Linked DNA regions of Homo sapiens. The protein of the gene in region 1 interacts with the protein of each later gene in a biochemical or structural test. Each region holds a gene or a part of one and is shown on either strand. Other genes may lie near its edges. The genes, in order: BHLHE22 and OTUD3.

Region 1 (7,858 bases):
CGAGGCGGTATGAATTCCTCATAAACTCTTTTCACTAGTTTTGCTCTACCTGCACCCGCATGTCCTACATTGTTCTCTGAGGTTTCAGCAGTGATAATGCAGGCGCTAAGTTATTCGCTCACTGTACGGTCCCCCTGGCCTTCAAAGTCGCCAAAGTGGGGAAAGACCACGCAGGAGCCAGGTGAGACCCTCGCGGTGGGCTCGGGGACTTGTGTGTGCACCTCGCGCTGAGAAGGCTGCCTCCCGGGGCTCAGGGTTTGTCTTCAAGGTCTGTTCAAATTTAGGCTAACTCGTCCCCAAACAGTAGTGAGGACCAGTATGTTTTCTGTAAAATAGATACAGACAAGGAAAATCTTTTCGAAAGAACGCTATACGAACAAGTTTCAACTTTCCCACAGTCGAAATTTTTGGAATTGCCAAGCAACTTGGAAAGACTAGCAAGACGGGGGGCCCTTGGCTCACTGCCAGGAATGCGCCAGCTCGCGCTAGTCCCCCAGCGTCGTCACCCTCGCTGTCCTCCTCCTCATGAGCCCACACATGTGGACCCAGTCTCTCTGAAGTGAGCTTTGTAGGACTCGGCGGCGAAGGGGACGAGAAAATACAGATGACAAAACGACGCCGAAAGGCTTGACCTCTGGGGCTAATCTCTCTGCCTCCGAGTAGATCCCGCGCTCCCAAATCCGGCGGGGGCGCAGTATGGTGAACCCCACACCTAGCTCCCTCAGCTGCGTGGGTTTCAAGCTGACCCAGGCGCCACCAGGCAGCCCCGAGTGGGCGAGTCAAGTGCAACTTCAAGGTCAATGTGCCTCTGACTGGGGCCTGGAGAGCTGCCAAGAATGCTGGGCTTGGAGCGCTGGGGTCGCGCCCCGCTACTGCGCCTTGGACCCCGCAGTGGAGGGCGCTGAGACCGCACCCCCCTCCCCGGGCAGTTTTCAGGAGAGGGTCCAGCTGGGGTCTCCGCGGTGGGGTCCAGAAACGATATTCCGGGTTGGATTCTTCCTCGGTTGGGGAAGCACAGCTGGCGGAGAATTCCCACGGCTCTCAGTGGATTCGCTTTTCCAGAGCTGTTCTCAAGCAAAGTTGTCATTTTTGCCAAACTTTGTTTTTACTTTTTAGACTGTTCTGAAAGAGATAAATTGAAAAACACAGAGAGACAATTTTCCTTCTCAGAAGATACACATAGCTACCCAAATTCAGACTTGTAACTTTTCAAACTAGTGAAGTAATAAACTATTTATCAGTACTATAAAAATAACAAAGACGAACTTCTGGCTTTACTCTTTAGAGTAGATTATGTTCCATTCTGATTTTACTTGGGTTCCTATCTCAAATTTCAAGCAAATATCAAGATGATCATTAAGAAATTTAAATAGTACCTAGAAATTAGTTTGGTCTGCAGCTCAATGCACTAATTTCAATGCGGTGCTGTCTGCTGAATATTTTAAACTCCTTTCAAAGCAGTAGGTGTATTCCCTCCCGCAGTAACAAAACGATATTCATCTTTACACAAGGTGCTCTGGCGTTTATAATTTGGTATCCAACACCCGGCCGAGAATGTTCCCTTTCCTGATGCTTTGGCCAACCGGCCTCGATAAGCCAACCAGCCCAGAACCAGGGGCGCTGGGCTGGGTGTTCCTCGGGGACGGCGCCCACTGCCCGCTTGGTCCCTGGAGTGTCCCGAGCTGCCTCCCATACCCCTGCTGCGGACAGAGTGGGGGCAGTCCTCTGCCTCTGTTTCCCAACTGCTTTGGTAACTCAGTGACTCTCTGTGAAACTGCAGAGTCAGAGGACTTCCCTTCCGTAGTTTTCATTCTAAGCGGTCATCTGTGAGTCAGAAGATTTCGCCGTGGCCTGATTTCCCACCCTTTCTGCCCGCGCAAGCCGAAAGCGCTCATGTTGGCTTTTCCTTTGCCACTTTTCCAACTTGCCAGTTCCATCAGGAGCCCGGATCCTTGCCCAGCTTCTTGGCGGAGCCAAGTTCGAGCGCACAGATTTCCCGAGCTCCAGCGGCCAGGGGGCACTGTGTGAGCGGCTGACGTCACCCCTCCGCCCGGCCGAAACCAGGCGGCGGGATCCCACACAGTTGAGGAGAGGGAGCCGAGGCCGTGACTTAGGGCTGGCGACGATTAAACCAAGTAACGAGACACCGGGCAGATGTGTTTTCATTGCCCTGTAAGATAAATGCAGTGTTAAGTGCCTGACAACTTCCCAGAAGCAATCAGCAAAAGTTTACGAGTGCATAAACCTCAAAGACCATTCCCTATCGGTTGTTATAAGGCCGGTATTTAGAGCTTCCATAAATTCTTCGGCCTTTTCCCAAAGCAAAGTTTTCAGCGACTATTAAGCAGCCACCTCCTCCGGGAAGACTAGGGGGATTTTCTTGAATTACAAAAGGAAGAGGCTTTTGGCTCCTACCGAGTAAAATGAAGTTGTGCAAAAGTTTGTTCCAGAAGCTTGGATGGCCAGGGAGAGGAGGGAGGTGGCAGGAGGTCGTGGAGATGGGGTCGGGAAGGGCCACGAGATGCGCTCAAGTGTTTGTTGCCTAAGGGCGAAAGACAAAGGTCCTGCGAAGATCCTGGGTCTAGCTGAGCTGGCAGGGCCTTTGCCGCCCTCAGTGTCGCCCCTGCTCTGCCATCCCGGCTCTGCCGCTCACAGCCCCGCATGGCACCCCCCACCAGTCCCTGACATGATCGATCCTTCGCCCTTCAAATGTCCACTTCGGGCCGGCAAGAATCCTGGCGCCCCGCAGAAGGTGGCAGCCCACAAAAAGGGCAAGCTGGCTGGAGAACTAAGTCAGACATTGTGAGATGTGTCCCCATCCTGCCCAGAGCCACGACCGGGCCAGCCTCCGCCCTCCCGAAAGTGACCCAAGGACTTTGATAAGTTAGTGTCATGCATACACGACCCACCTATGTTTAGAGAGAACCTTTGTTTATGATCCCAGTGAAAACAAAGCTGCTAATTGAAAAACAATAACACTAGCGTGTCTTTAGCTTTCTAAAGGGAGAGGTTAACAGCTGCGAACGCCGGGGGAGGGACGGTGGGAGGGGTGCGGTGAGCGAGGGGCTGCCCTGCATGTAAACAGCCTCGGGGTCCCAGACGAGACAAGTGGGACCGCTCAAGCCTGCAGAACCCCCGGTCTCGGTCCCAGGCACAAGAGCCTCCCGTAGCCCCGCCTGATCTTTCTCAGTCTTTAGGTTCCAGGACATCCAAAGGAGCGTAGGTAACCGACGTCTACGTAGTATTTCTGTCCCCGGAAGACTGGATCTCAGGGAATTATTATGGAAGATACTGCTGAGCCCCTTTCATCCTTTCCAGGTGAAAATACAGACATTTTTGTGTCGCCCTCACCCTTCCTTTATGAAATAAGGTGCCCAACTGTTCTGATATTACCATTCAAAAACAGGTTCTGTGGCGAACCTCATTTGTGAATCTATTACAGAGATTAATAGATTATTTCTCCTTTTTCAACTAATTCTCAGTGGGGAAATTTAACCATATGGTAAGGAGAGAATTAGAATTTCATCACATTAGAGCAAAATGTAATGAAAAGAGTCCAACACCTGGGGCCAACTCCGAAAGCCACAATTAAAAGGTTTTTAATGAAACCAGAGAAACCAAAAATTGCATAGTCTTCAGTACTTCTGCCATATAAGAAAGAGTTATTGGAAGGTGTTGGGAAATATTGTTTTTACTTATGTCATAAGGATGAAAACCAGCTGCTAAATACCATGTGTACCCAGAGACCGAACTCAGGAGTGAGATGACCGCGTGTACCAGTGCCCATCCGGAGAGGAGCACTTGTTTTTACATTCTCCCTTCCCGAACCCTCCAAGAACAACCGAGGCTGATCCAGATGTCCTTAAATGGCTTCCGGGTAAATAAATATGCATAAATGCCTCACTTCGTGTGGGAGCGGATTTGACTCCTGGTGAAGTTGACTCTTTTGAAGCAATCAGATTTTCATCTTAAGGAAAGTTTGAGAAACCGGTTTGTTTGTTTGTTTTCTTCCTGTTTAGGAAATTGTGTACTTCACAATTACCATCACTGTAACAGTTATTTGGAGACCACTGCAAAATCACTGCCACCCCACCTTAAAAAAAAATGGGCTGCATGATCACTTGCTCTTCATTTTGCTTTTTTCTTTCTTTTTTTCCAATCTGGGTAGGAAATGGGCAGTGGCGGGTGTGGAAACGAGGCAGAGTGTTCGGGGGGACGACTGCTTTGCTCTCTGACCAGCTGAAAACCTAGAGTGAATTTTGGGCAAGCCAGCTGGGACACCACCTTCTCTCGGAAAGTCCCATCCCCAAATCCAGACCAGTCATCCTACGAACAGGGGTGGAGTATAATTCTCGCCCGGAAGGGTAATTTAGCACAAGCTGAGACAGCAGTGGCGAGGGAAGGGCAGTGGGGGGTGGGGTGCGGTGGGTGGGGGCGTCTGCTTTCCACAGGACTCCCAGGCTTCGCCGCCGATCTACAATTTGCTGAAGGAGCAAAGAACATCCTCGGCTCTAAGTAGGGCTTTTAGTGTGCTCATTGATGAGTGAAAGTCGCCACACATGTCAAGCTAAAGGCAGTTGTTGGGTTACTAACAGGACCCAGCGCCTTGCAAACATATGCGCTAAGCTGTGTATACAGATGGCAGGCAGAATAATGGAGCAGGCGCCTTTTATAAAGCTCTAGCTGCTGCCTGTCTTCAGACCTGGGAAATGAAACTATTCAGACTTGCGGCCAGATAGCGCCTGCGATTGTTTGTTACCGTTTTAATCCTATTAATTAAAACGTTAACCTGATTGGGTAGAAAGCGCTGTCCCAACAGGCGAGTCTTCTTCATAATAACCTACTCAGAGATAATGATGTAAAAGACTCCCCCGTCTGTGGCGGCGGCTGTTTGATGGGTCCGGAAATCTCTTGAAGGTGAATCCAAGCAAGATAAACGGTGCGGAGAGGAGGCGCGGGGCTGGGCTCAGAGCGGCGGCGGCGGCGGCTCCACTCCCTCCGCGCCCACCCTCCCACCATGCGGGGCCGCGGCCCATGGTGAGCCCCAGCAGCCAGCACCATCGGCTGGAGACGAAGAAGAAGAAGAAGAGGAGGCGGCGAGCGCGGGGGAAGGCGAAAAAGAAAAAGAAAGAAGGGGAGAGGGCTCCCGGCAGCACCAGGACCGACGCGCGCACCAGCTCCGGAGCCCAGCTCGCGCGCGTCTGTGGGGCCGCCTGACTCCGGGGCCGAGGCGGCGGCGGCGGCAGCGGGCGCGGCGGCCCGGGCTGCGCGCCGGCGCGGGACCATGGAGCGCGGGATGCACCTCGGTGCAGCGGCCGCCGGCGAGGACGACCTCTTCCTGCACAAGAGCCTGAGCGCCTCCACCTCCAAGCGCTTGGAAGCGGCTTTCCGCTCCACGCCCCCGGGCATGGACCTGTCCCTGGCGCCGCCGCCTCGGGAACGCCCGGCGTCCTCCTCCTCGTCGCCCCTGGGCTGCTTCGAGCCGGCTGACCCCGAGGGGGCAGGGCTGCTGTTGCCGCCGCCTGGAGGAGGCGGCGGCGGCAGCGCGGGAAGTGGCGGCGGCGGCGGCGGCGGGGTGGGTGTCCCCGGGCTGCTAGTAGGTTCAGCCGGCGTTGGGGGCGACCCTAGCCTAAGCAGCCTGCCGGCCGGGGCCGCCCTTTGCCTCAAGTACGGCGAAAGCGCGAGCCGGGGCTCGGTGGCCGAGAGCAGCGGCGGCGAGCAGAGCCCCGACGACGACAGCGACGGTCGCTGCGAGCTCGTGCTGCGGGCCGGAGTAGCCGACCCGCGGGCCTCCCCGGGAGCGGGAGGTGGTGGCGCGAAGGCAGCCGAGGGCTGCTCCAATGCCCACCTCCACGGCGGCGCCAGCGTCCCCCCGGGGGGCCTGGGCGGCGGCGGCGGCGGGGGTAGCAGCAGCGGTAGCAGTGGCGGCGGTGGCGGTAGCGGTAGCGGCAGCGGCGGCAGCAGCAGCAGCAGCAGCAGCAGCAGCAAGAAATCCAAAGAGCAAAAGGCGCTGCGGCTTAACATCAATGCCCGAGAGCGCCGGCGGATGCACGACCTGAACGACGCGCTGGACGAGCTGCGCGCGGTGATCCCCTACGCGCACAGCCCCTCGGTGCGAAAGCTCTCCAAGATCGCCACGCTGCTGCTCGCCAAGAACTACATCCTCATGCAGGCGCAGGCCCTGGAGGAGATGCGGCGCCTAGTCGCCTACCTCAACCAGGGCCAGGCCATCTCGGCTGCCTCCCTGCCCAGCTCGGCGGCTGCAGCGGCAGCAGCTGCTGCCCTGCACCCGGCGCTCGGCGCCTACGAGCAGGCAGCCGGCTACCCGTTCAGCGCCGGACTGCCCCCGGCTGCCTCCTGCCCGGAGAAGTGCGCCCTGTTTAACAGCGTCTCCTCCAGCCTCTGCAAACAGTGCACGGAGAAGCCTTAAACACACCCCCGAAAAACACAAGACCGACCCAAAATCTAGAGGAAAGCGAAAAGCTGCTCCCCACCCCCTTTATTTTGGTCCTCTCGTAGTTGTGAAACACTTGCAGAGCAAACAAAGCAGAGGCAAGAACTGAGGAGAAGTATCAGAGACAAACGGGACTTTTAGCCTTGACATCCCCAGAATCTCGGTCTTTGGGGTGGGGAGGGAGGGAGGAGGGAGGTGGAGTTGGGATGGAGTATGGATGTCTTTTTTTTCTCAGAAAAGTGGCAACTTTGGTGGCAGCCTAGACCGCGAGGAAGTGGAATCTTCCTTAAAGGTGAAACATAAGTTGAGAAGTAGTGCTTGGTTATTAAGCCTGGAGAGTGTTTGAATGGCAAAATACTAATCCTACTAATAATTGTGGATTTGGCTAGTGCTGAGGGGGAGAGGAGGGGTTAGGGGTTGGGTAGCATGAGAGATGGAATATTCATTCAGACAAATCAGAAAGGGCACTTGAAAATAAATTTTGATTCTGAGCCAGGAGAAAAACTTGAAATGTTGACTTAAGTGAGGGGGAAATAAAACCCAGAGAGAGAGAGAGAGCGAGAGAGAGAGACATGTTACTATGAAAGACTTGTATTTTTTATTGTCTCTGAACTTTAATCCTGTGAAAATGCTCAAAGTTTTGGCGAGAGTGATATAAAAAAACTGACTGTGGCTGAAAGAATTGCATTTAAAAATATTTATGTGCACCTTGTTACTTTCTACTCTGCAATGATGTATTAACAATTCATGGTATTTATTTGTTATTCTTCAATGACCCTTCCACATCAACAGTATTTATCATGTGTTAAAGTCATGGGTCTTATGTGCAGATTTTTTTAATGCCTCTAAAATTGTTTTATAGATTACTTATGCTGTGTGCCAAGTGTTTAAAGGTTTATTTGCCAACAAGTATGAAGAGAAATATTGATGTATCTGAGCTGCTTAGGTTTATGAAAGGTCACCTGGATATTTTCAGTTGCATCATCCCTGTATTTAAATTGAGCTTTAATAAATTGCTTCAGTCCAAAAATTACAGGAAAGGTGTATTCTTAATTGATGAATGAATTGATCTCTTTTTTGAAAGGGGACTCCTTTACATTCCAAAAGGGAAAAACATCACAGCAATAGTTGCTATACGTAAGAACATGCTAAGCAAATATTTTTCCAGGCTGTGCTGTGCATTTTTAAAAGGTCTAATTTAATTGCTTTTAATATATATGTACATATATGTTATTTTAACTGTGGAGAATTATTTAAGTTAAAAGACTGGTTTGATTTGCCTATGGTGTGAAATCCTTTGTTATTTTTCTAAAAAAATAAAATTTAAAAAGAAAGAAAACTAAGGAAGAACAAGAAGCTATTTACCCAAAGTGAGCTTTCAGTTTTAGTTTTGCATGGCTGTTT
Region 2 (7,528 bases), on another chromosome or scaffold:
CAGGAAGCCCCTCTAATCCCTAGCAGCAGCCACCTGGCCCCAGCTGAATCCCTGGAATGGGATTAAGGAGGCCATGGAAGTTTTCCAGTGTGCGGGCAGCACCTGGATTGGGACATCACTTTGGACCATAGCAGATTTCCTGGAAGAATCTCAGGTTAAATGGGGTCTGGAATCTGGGCCTCACAGGCTCAGGAACCAGACAGTGTGTGTCTATCCAGAGATGATGGGTCTCTCAGTTGTGGACTGAAGAAGAATCACACAGAGAAGATCACTTGAGAGATTGTGGGAGAATCTGCTTGCAGAAGCTAGAATATTCTTGACTTTCATCCAGAAAACCATCTAGTCCTTTTTTGTGTCAAGGCAACAGGGAGCCAATTCAGAAGGCTGCTTGTTGAATACAAAATGAAGAATGGGAGAATGGGAGTCTCAAGGTCAAAATCATGACATGGTGAGGTCTGCCGAGCCAGAGCCCTTGTGTGGATGGGGCCCCTGCTGGACGCAATGAAGGACTCCCTTCGCTCTGGTTTCCTGTGGACCCTTCTAGGTGAGTTGTGCCCCCAGATGGTACTGTCTGTGCCTTGGCAGGGAGCCTCCTCCTTGAATGGGGTCAAACAATCTTGAGAGTTCTAGAGGAGCCCAAAGTGGCCGCTGACAGACAACTGCTACATATTTAAACAGTTTCAAACTTATCAAGAGATGCTCTCAGATATCAGGCAGAAATCTTAAGTGTGTAGTCCTTAAGAATGACCCTGCCATTGTGTTTGGTGGCTGCATTTAGCTGCACTAAAGCAAAAATCAGCTGTTCTAAGCTTAGTCAGATCCCAAAGTACTATTATACACCTAGAATACTCAATCCAGCACACGCAAACACGCAAAGCTTCCACACAAAGGTCTCCAAAAAGGACATTTCCCAGCACACTCAGCCTCCTTGCATTCACTCAAACGGTGGTCAGATACTGATAAAAACAACTTAAAACTTTGTTTTTAAACTAGAATTTATTGGTATACAAAACTCCATTTCATAGATAAAGTGGCACATCTTTGCAGCTTCTATTGCACCAAGTATCGAAGATTAAAAACACAAAAAAAGAAACATTTGGTTTTGAAAACACTGCAAATAGCCAAGTACAGTACTTTGGTAAATAAAAAATAAAATGGTTCAGATGAACACAATCCGTGGAAAGAAACAATCTAGGGGGAAGGAACTATGGACATCAGACAATGGTCACAATTCTCACCATCGAGCTCCATAGATAAGGCAAGACTTGCTAAGTCTATGGATCACGACCCCATGGAGGTCTTAAGTATCTCCAGACTGAAGCTAGAACAAGTATAGTGCAATTAGAAAGAGAGAAGGCCCCTCCTCCACGGATACATCCACCCCTCTGTAAAGGAGACTGACGCATGCCAACACTTCTACATGGGAAAGGGGAGCCCCCGGGTGTGACGTCTGACTCCTGGCCCTTTTCTTCTTTCCTCTGAGCTTAGTGCTGGTGGAGGCTCTGGAAGAGGCACTGGGGAGGCCAAGGGCCCTTCCTACTATGAAAAATGAACTGTAAGAGTGGGAAAATGTGTGAAGCCTCTTACCAGTACTGCTCGAGGGACCTGCCAGGGATCAAACCGCCAGCTGAGGTCTGTGGCTGAGCTCACATGATTGTCATGGATGGCTGGCAGCCTGCCGCAGGCTGACACGCCAAGGATGAGAGCCAGGCCACAGAGAGTCTGTCCGGCAATCGCCGCCAGCCGCAAGGACTGGCAGTGAGCAGCAGCAGCTCTGGATCACGGCTATGACCTGCTTAGAATAAATTCCCTATGCAAAAGTTCGTAGTTTTACAGAAATAGATTCTTTACACTGGTACCAGCCCCTTCTCAAGTAATTCTGCAAGGATGCTAAACATTTTCATGGAACCACAAAACAGTCCTAACGAGGACAGTAAAGAGAGGGACTCTACAAAGCAGCTGCTTCAAAGACATAGGTCAGAGCCTGAGGTTTTAAAGGAATTTCACCTTGGGAGAGAACTTCCAGGCCAACCACAAGGCACCGCTCTTTCCGGAGGTCCCCATCAGCGGTGTGCGGTAAGCTCTGCATCCTAAGTGCACGTGGTGACTGGTGCTCCGTGTTCTCTCCACGTTACAAATATGACTGTCCCCTTTCTAATATGCGATGGCAGACGTCGTAATTTATGCCATCTAGATCTTCAAATCAATGATGTCATTAAAAAAATACAATTTACTGGCCGGGCAGGGTTGCTCACACCCGTAATCCTAGCACTTTGGGAGGCTGAGGCGGGCAGATCACAAGGTCAGGAGTTTGAGACCAGCCTGGCTAACATGGTGAAACCCCGTCTCTACTAAAAATACAAAAATTAGCCAAGCATGGTGGCACACACCTGTAATCCCAGCTACTCAGGAGGCTGAGGCAGGAGAATCGCTTGAACCCGGGAGGTGGAGGTTGCAGTGAGCCGAGATTGCCCCACCACACTCCAGCCTGGGCAACAAAGCAAGACTCTGTCTCAAAAAAAAAAAAAAAAAAATTTACTTTAGAGCCAGGAAAACATAACTTATAAAAAGTCCATTATTAAATCACCTCAGAACAACTGTCAAAGGCCCCGGAGTTTTAGCAACACTTGTTCTGAAAGCTGTGAATAATGAGAATGGCAAAACAGAAAAACGGCATCAGACTGAGTCTAAAGATTTAACATGGCTAGACAGAGCCTTGAGGTAAGAAAGTGAAGAGCTACGCATCTACCCAAAACGGGAGTCGAAGAGGGCCACTGACGCAACACATTAAAATCAGGAAGCTCCATTCTCTTCCCCCCGCAGAGATCCTTTTGGTCAGGGTAACTTTTAGTCACCTCTGACTAGGAATCCAAGTTTCCTTCAACTGACTGAATATTTCACAGAGGTAAACTGATAGCATTCTATGCTGACCCAGTAAAACCCAGGCAGAGTCTACAGAGTTTCTCAGAATTAGAGAAATTGCACATTGACTACAGGGACTCACTACTAGTACAGTTCAGCGCTGAAGTCCACCTGATGCTACCTGTGTAATATGTGAGCAACTCCCCGACTGAAGGTGGCCCTCCTCCCACCCCACCCCCGACAATCACATCATTTCACACTGAAGCAGCTCCCTGGGGGAAGCAGGGCAGGCATAATAAATTACCCATGGAGAGGCTCCCTCCCAGCCAGCTCCAGCTGCTCCACAAGGGAGATCCCACTTCCCAAGCCCTCAGAATCAAACTGGCATTGGAAGTGTTTTCAGAGCTTAATAAAGAAACTACAGACAACTTCGACTAACATTTAAAATTCTTTCTGCCACAATTTCTCAACCATACTTTGCTCCTGAAAGTGTATGTTCATTATTATTGAAAAACTAAATACACACATACATTCTAACTTTCTAATATCTCCTAGTGGCAACTACATTATCTAGAAGTTATGGTTCTATGCTGCTTTAATACATCTACCTCTCTAGTTCAAAGCTGTTGCCACTAAAATGGTATTTATTTTGACCTCTAAAAAAAAATATTTTCAAAATCCGTAAAACCTTTATATACCGTTTATAAGAGCAGTAAGCAGCTATGCACCACTGCTCCATCCCCTTTCTCCTGACCACACTACAAGCTACCAAGACAATCTCATGTAACATAAATCTCTGCCAGCCAAGATGTAACACAGAGGTTAAGACACATTCAGTTCCTAATAAAGAGTTCACAGGAGCACCTGTACTAGAGTAACAGCTGCTGACAACAGTCATCCCAGGACTAGACATACTGGGCCTCCACTCGGGCTGCCAGTGAAGGAATTTTCAAGTGCCCACTGAGGCAACTAAGCATGTTGATTCCAACCTTCTCATGTACCCAGTGAGACTGAGGCAGTGAAGTCTAAATTGAAACCATTAGCTAGAAGGTATCACTGAAGTTGGATGCATGTACCCGATTCCTAATAATTAACACACTAAACAGACCAACTGTAACTGAAAAGCTGTGAAACCAGTAGTAAAATTACTAAAGCCGTTTGATTAGTTTTTTAAACCACCATTATTATACTCCAGAAATGCTGAAGCCTATTACCAGAATTAGGTAATTTAAAAAATAAATGTTCCCAATATTCTTTAATAACTTTTTAGCAGCTTCTAAAACTTCTAAAACCCAATAGGGCCCAAGGCCACCTTCATTAACCAAGTAAATAAAGCAATTCTACTACTTCTGACAATAAGTCTCTCTTAAGCTGACTGCTAATCTGAATTTCTGGCATACAATCTTATCTTTCTGAGAGGATCTGGCCTCTGCACTCAAGCAGTACAAAACAGACAGGAAAACATCTTCATTCAGAAACACTCAGCCAGTCAGGAATCTGCCCAGAGTTGAAAACCAAGACAACCATAGATCCTAACGCACTCGATCCCACTTCCTTAGAGTAAGGCAACAGAGATCTTTCATTCGTTTGGAATGAGTAGAGTAACACAGCCTCAAGCTCAGGACTCTGCGACGTGCACAGAAAAAAAATGCTGTGTACTTTTTTTAATCTGCTAAATTTTACAATGTACTGTACCCAGGAAGAAACCTAAACCACAATGTCCTAGGAGCAATTCCAAGAGACTACTGATGCTCCAACTACAAAAAGCCACCAAAGTCAAAAACAAAACCAAAAGATACCAGTGAAACTGAAGAAAGCCAAAGGCCTGGTGATAAAGACAATCTGGCGACTCCAGGGCCTACCAAACATTTTAGTTTTCAATTTGCCTCCGAATTTTTATAATTCTGAAATGCGAGGGGTGGGGAAGATAACTAATAATTTACCTTTCAACTCAGCATCAATTATTTGCCCAAGTATTAGGTCCCAAAAGACAAAGATGATCCAAGATGGGCTGCCTCATACGTTATAGTTCTTAAGTTCACATCCACCTAACTCAGTTTTAGGAAAGACGTCTCTCCACTGCTCAAGTCTGTCTATTTCAGAACTGAAGAGTGATTCGAAGGCCTCAACCAAAGTATGTTCTCTTCTCTGCTGGTCCAACCTAAGTCAACCAACCCTGCTGGTCCAACAACTTCCAGCAGATGCTGGAGTTTTCCCAACTTTGAAATGCCAAACAGGGCTTAAATAAAAAGAAATAAATGTAGCATTTTATAAGATTTAATTTCCACAATACTAAGTTTAGCGACCTATAAGGTCAAGTTACCACGTATCTCTCTGAAGGCATCTAAGTCTACAACAGAAGGGAAGAAAATCGTTATTTAAAATGCGAACATGAAAAACCTTATTCTTCCAGGCTTCTCCTATAAAAACATAATTCTTTAGACTCCTCTTAGGCAAAACCCCAGGAGTTCGTCTCCTGTTACAACTATAGACCCTGCTCTACACACTATCAGAATTCCAGAACTGTATCACAAGCAGTAACATGCCATCTCCCCACTGTCAGGAAACAAATACCAAAAACCCAACACCACTATCAACTTCCCAACAAGGCCAGGCCTAATTAACAGTCAGCTGCATTTATCATATGGCTTGAGTGCAAATGAACTAACAGCACCTGCATCCCATCTGAAATAACATCAGAATCAGGAAGGAGAGAAATGCGGTTAATTTCCATCCTGACTGCAGGCCACAACCCTCACGTAACTTTGGGAAAACAATTCCTGAATTATTTTCTGAGTAACTTGGATTAGAAGTAAATCAAAGCATATTCCTGAGTTGGAGATCATTTATAAGCTACCCTATATATCTGTTTGAGAATGAAAGAGAAACTAAGGAAACTTGTCATTCTGAATTTCTAACAATTATTCTAAACTACTCATGAACAATTACAGCAAAACTCACCCCAAATGTTAAGGAAAGATCCTAGGGTCACTGAAGTCTGATTTTCAGGGCAAATAAAGCCACCACTTAAAAGGTTTTTCCTGACCTAACTATCTGCCCCTAAAACTCAGTATTTTAATTTTGTATTACAGAATATGAATGGCCTCACTGCATTTTCATAAAACACCAACATATCACTAATAAAACTTCGAACAAAAAAAGAGGCAGCTTGAACGAAACTAACTCAGTGTGTGAGCTCATGTGTGGGCTTCGTTGGTTGTGTTGCGTTTTATAAAAGGACGGCCTCACTGGAAAGTCTAGCACACAGCAATCCTTTTCCAGCCGCTTCTTACAACTCCCAAGAGGCCAAAGAGTCAGATGTTGAGAGCGGCGAAGGTCTTCACCAAGGTGACCTGCGTGTTCGCCTCTGCTTCGCTTCTGTTATTGTCCCTGTGGCTACCTCTGCTCTCCAGGGCTTTGTGGCGGTGCCTCTCCTCCTGCCGCTTCTTCTTCTCCATCCACTGCTGTTCTCGCCTCTGTTTGTTTGTGACCTGAGAGAGAAGGCCATGGTGGTGAGTAGGAAGCACGGGGGACTCAAGCTGCCACCTGCTAGAAGGGAGATGGTGGCAAAGGGCACAGATTGCTTTTCAGCAGGAACAGGGAAAACCAATCTAAGACGCCAAAGATGATTTACTGTCCACTGCTGCTCAAATTTGCATTTAAATTTATATTTCCTTGCTGAACTAGCAAACAAAATCAATTCCATTCTTCTCTTAAAGAAACCAGCCCTCATCCAGCAAGAGTTGGTAACAAACAAACGTGTCAGAGAACATTTTTCCCCACATAATTTAATGCCCCAGGTAATTCTGACAAAATCCTCAGAAGCTTATTGCATCTCTGCCTCTGCTGTGGCTTTTTACACTGTGGCATTTTGAGCTCAGAACTTCTTGGTGAAAATCTTTAAAATGATTCCAAATTCAGTAAAATGGAAGATGTCACATACTACTTGTGGGAGTGAAGGGCAGGGAGGGAGATGTACCTTTCTGGGAAGCACGTGACAATTTACCAAAAGCCTTTAAAAGATTCATGTATCCATGACCTTTAACCTGTTCATTCCTCTTCTGGGACTTTATTCAAGAAAATAATGCAAAAACCAAAGATTTATACACAAAGGTGTTCATTGCAGATCATGGCATTTATAAAAAACATGGATAAACATGGGAAGAGCCCACATGTACAGTAATGTTAGGTGGGAAAAGGAGGCTTTTCATTTGTACACTGAGGACAATTTCAGGGTGTATTTCCTTCCAACTGTCACGGCATACACCAAACAGGATAAGTGAGGTCATTCTGCTTCTTGATGTAGCTTTATGCATTCCCCAGATTTTCCACACTACTTTTATAAATCAGAAGGAAAATACAAATAAAATTAATCTCAAGCTACCACCACTGCCACAGAATTACACCTGCCCACCACCTGCCCATTCAACCCCATCTTACATACCTTTGCGAGCTGGTTTTTATTTGCTTTGTTTTCTTCACTAGGGCTGGCCTGTGCCTTATTGTTTTCGGTCCTGCCTTCATTTAAGCCCTGATTTCCAAAGATTCTGGCACCACTGCCACCCTCCTCCCACAAAGGGCCACACTGCTTCAGCACTCGACCACTGGGCTCAAGATTCTCTTCTGCATCTTCCAAAGAAAGACATTTCATTAAAACTGAGAACCT

What was found.
Region 2: of the proteins of BHLHE22 (region 1) and OTUD3, one has a biochemical effect on the other in vitro, tested with the Homo sapiens proteins (one study listed by BioGRID).

Annotation. Positions count from the first base shown.
Region 1 is NC_000008.11:64,575,507-64,583,364, forward strand, and holds the start of BHLHE22 (class E basic helix-loop-helix protein 22), read left to right. Parts: upstream 1-4,858; 5' UTR 4,859-5,284; coding exon 5,285-6,430; 3' UTR 6,431-7,858. Other genes in the region: uncharacterized protein LOC124900252, read right to left, coding at 1,813-2,170, 2,416-2,663. UniProt on the Homo sapiens protein: Inhibits DNA binding of TCF3/E47 homodimers and TCF3 (E47)/NEUROD1 heterodimers and acts as a strong repressor of Neurod1 and Myod-responsive genes, probably by heterodimerization with class a basic helix-loop-helix factors.
Region 2 is NC_000001.11:19,906,395-19,913,922, reverse strand, and holds the end of OTUD3 (OTU domain-containing protein 3), read right to left. Parts: intron 7,492-7,528; coding exon 7,307-7,491; intron 6,354-7,306; coding exon 6,177-6,353; 3' UTR 978-6,176; downstream 1-977.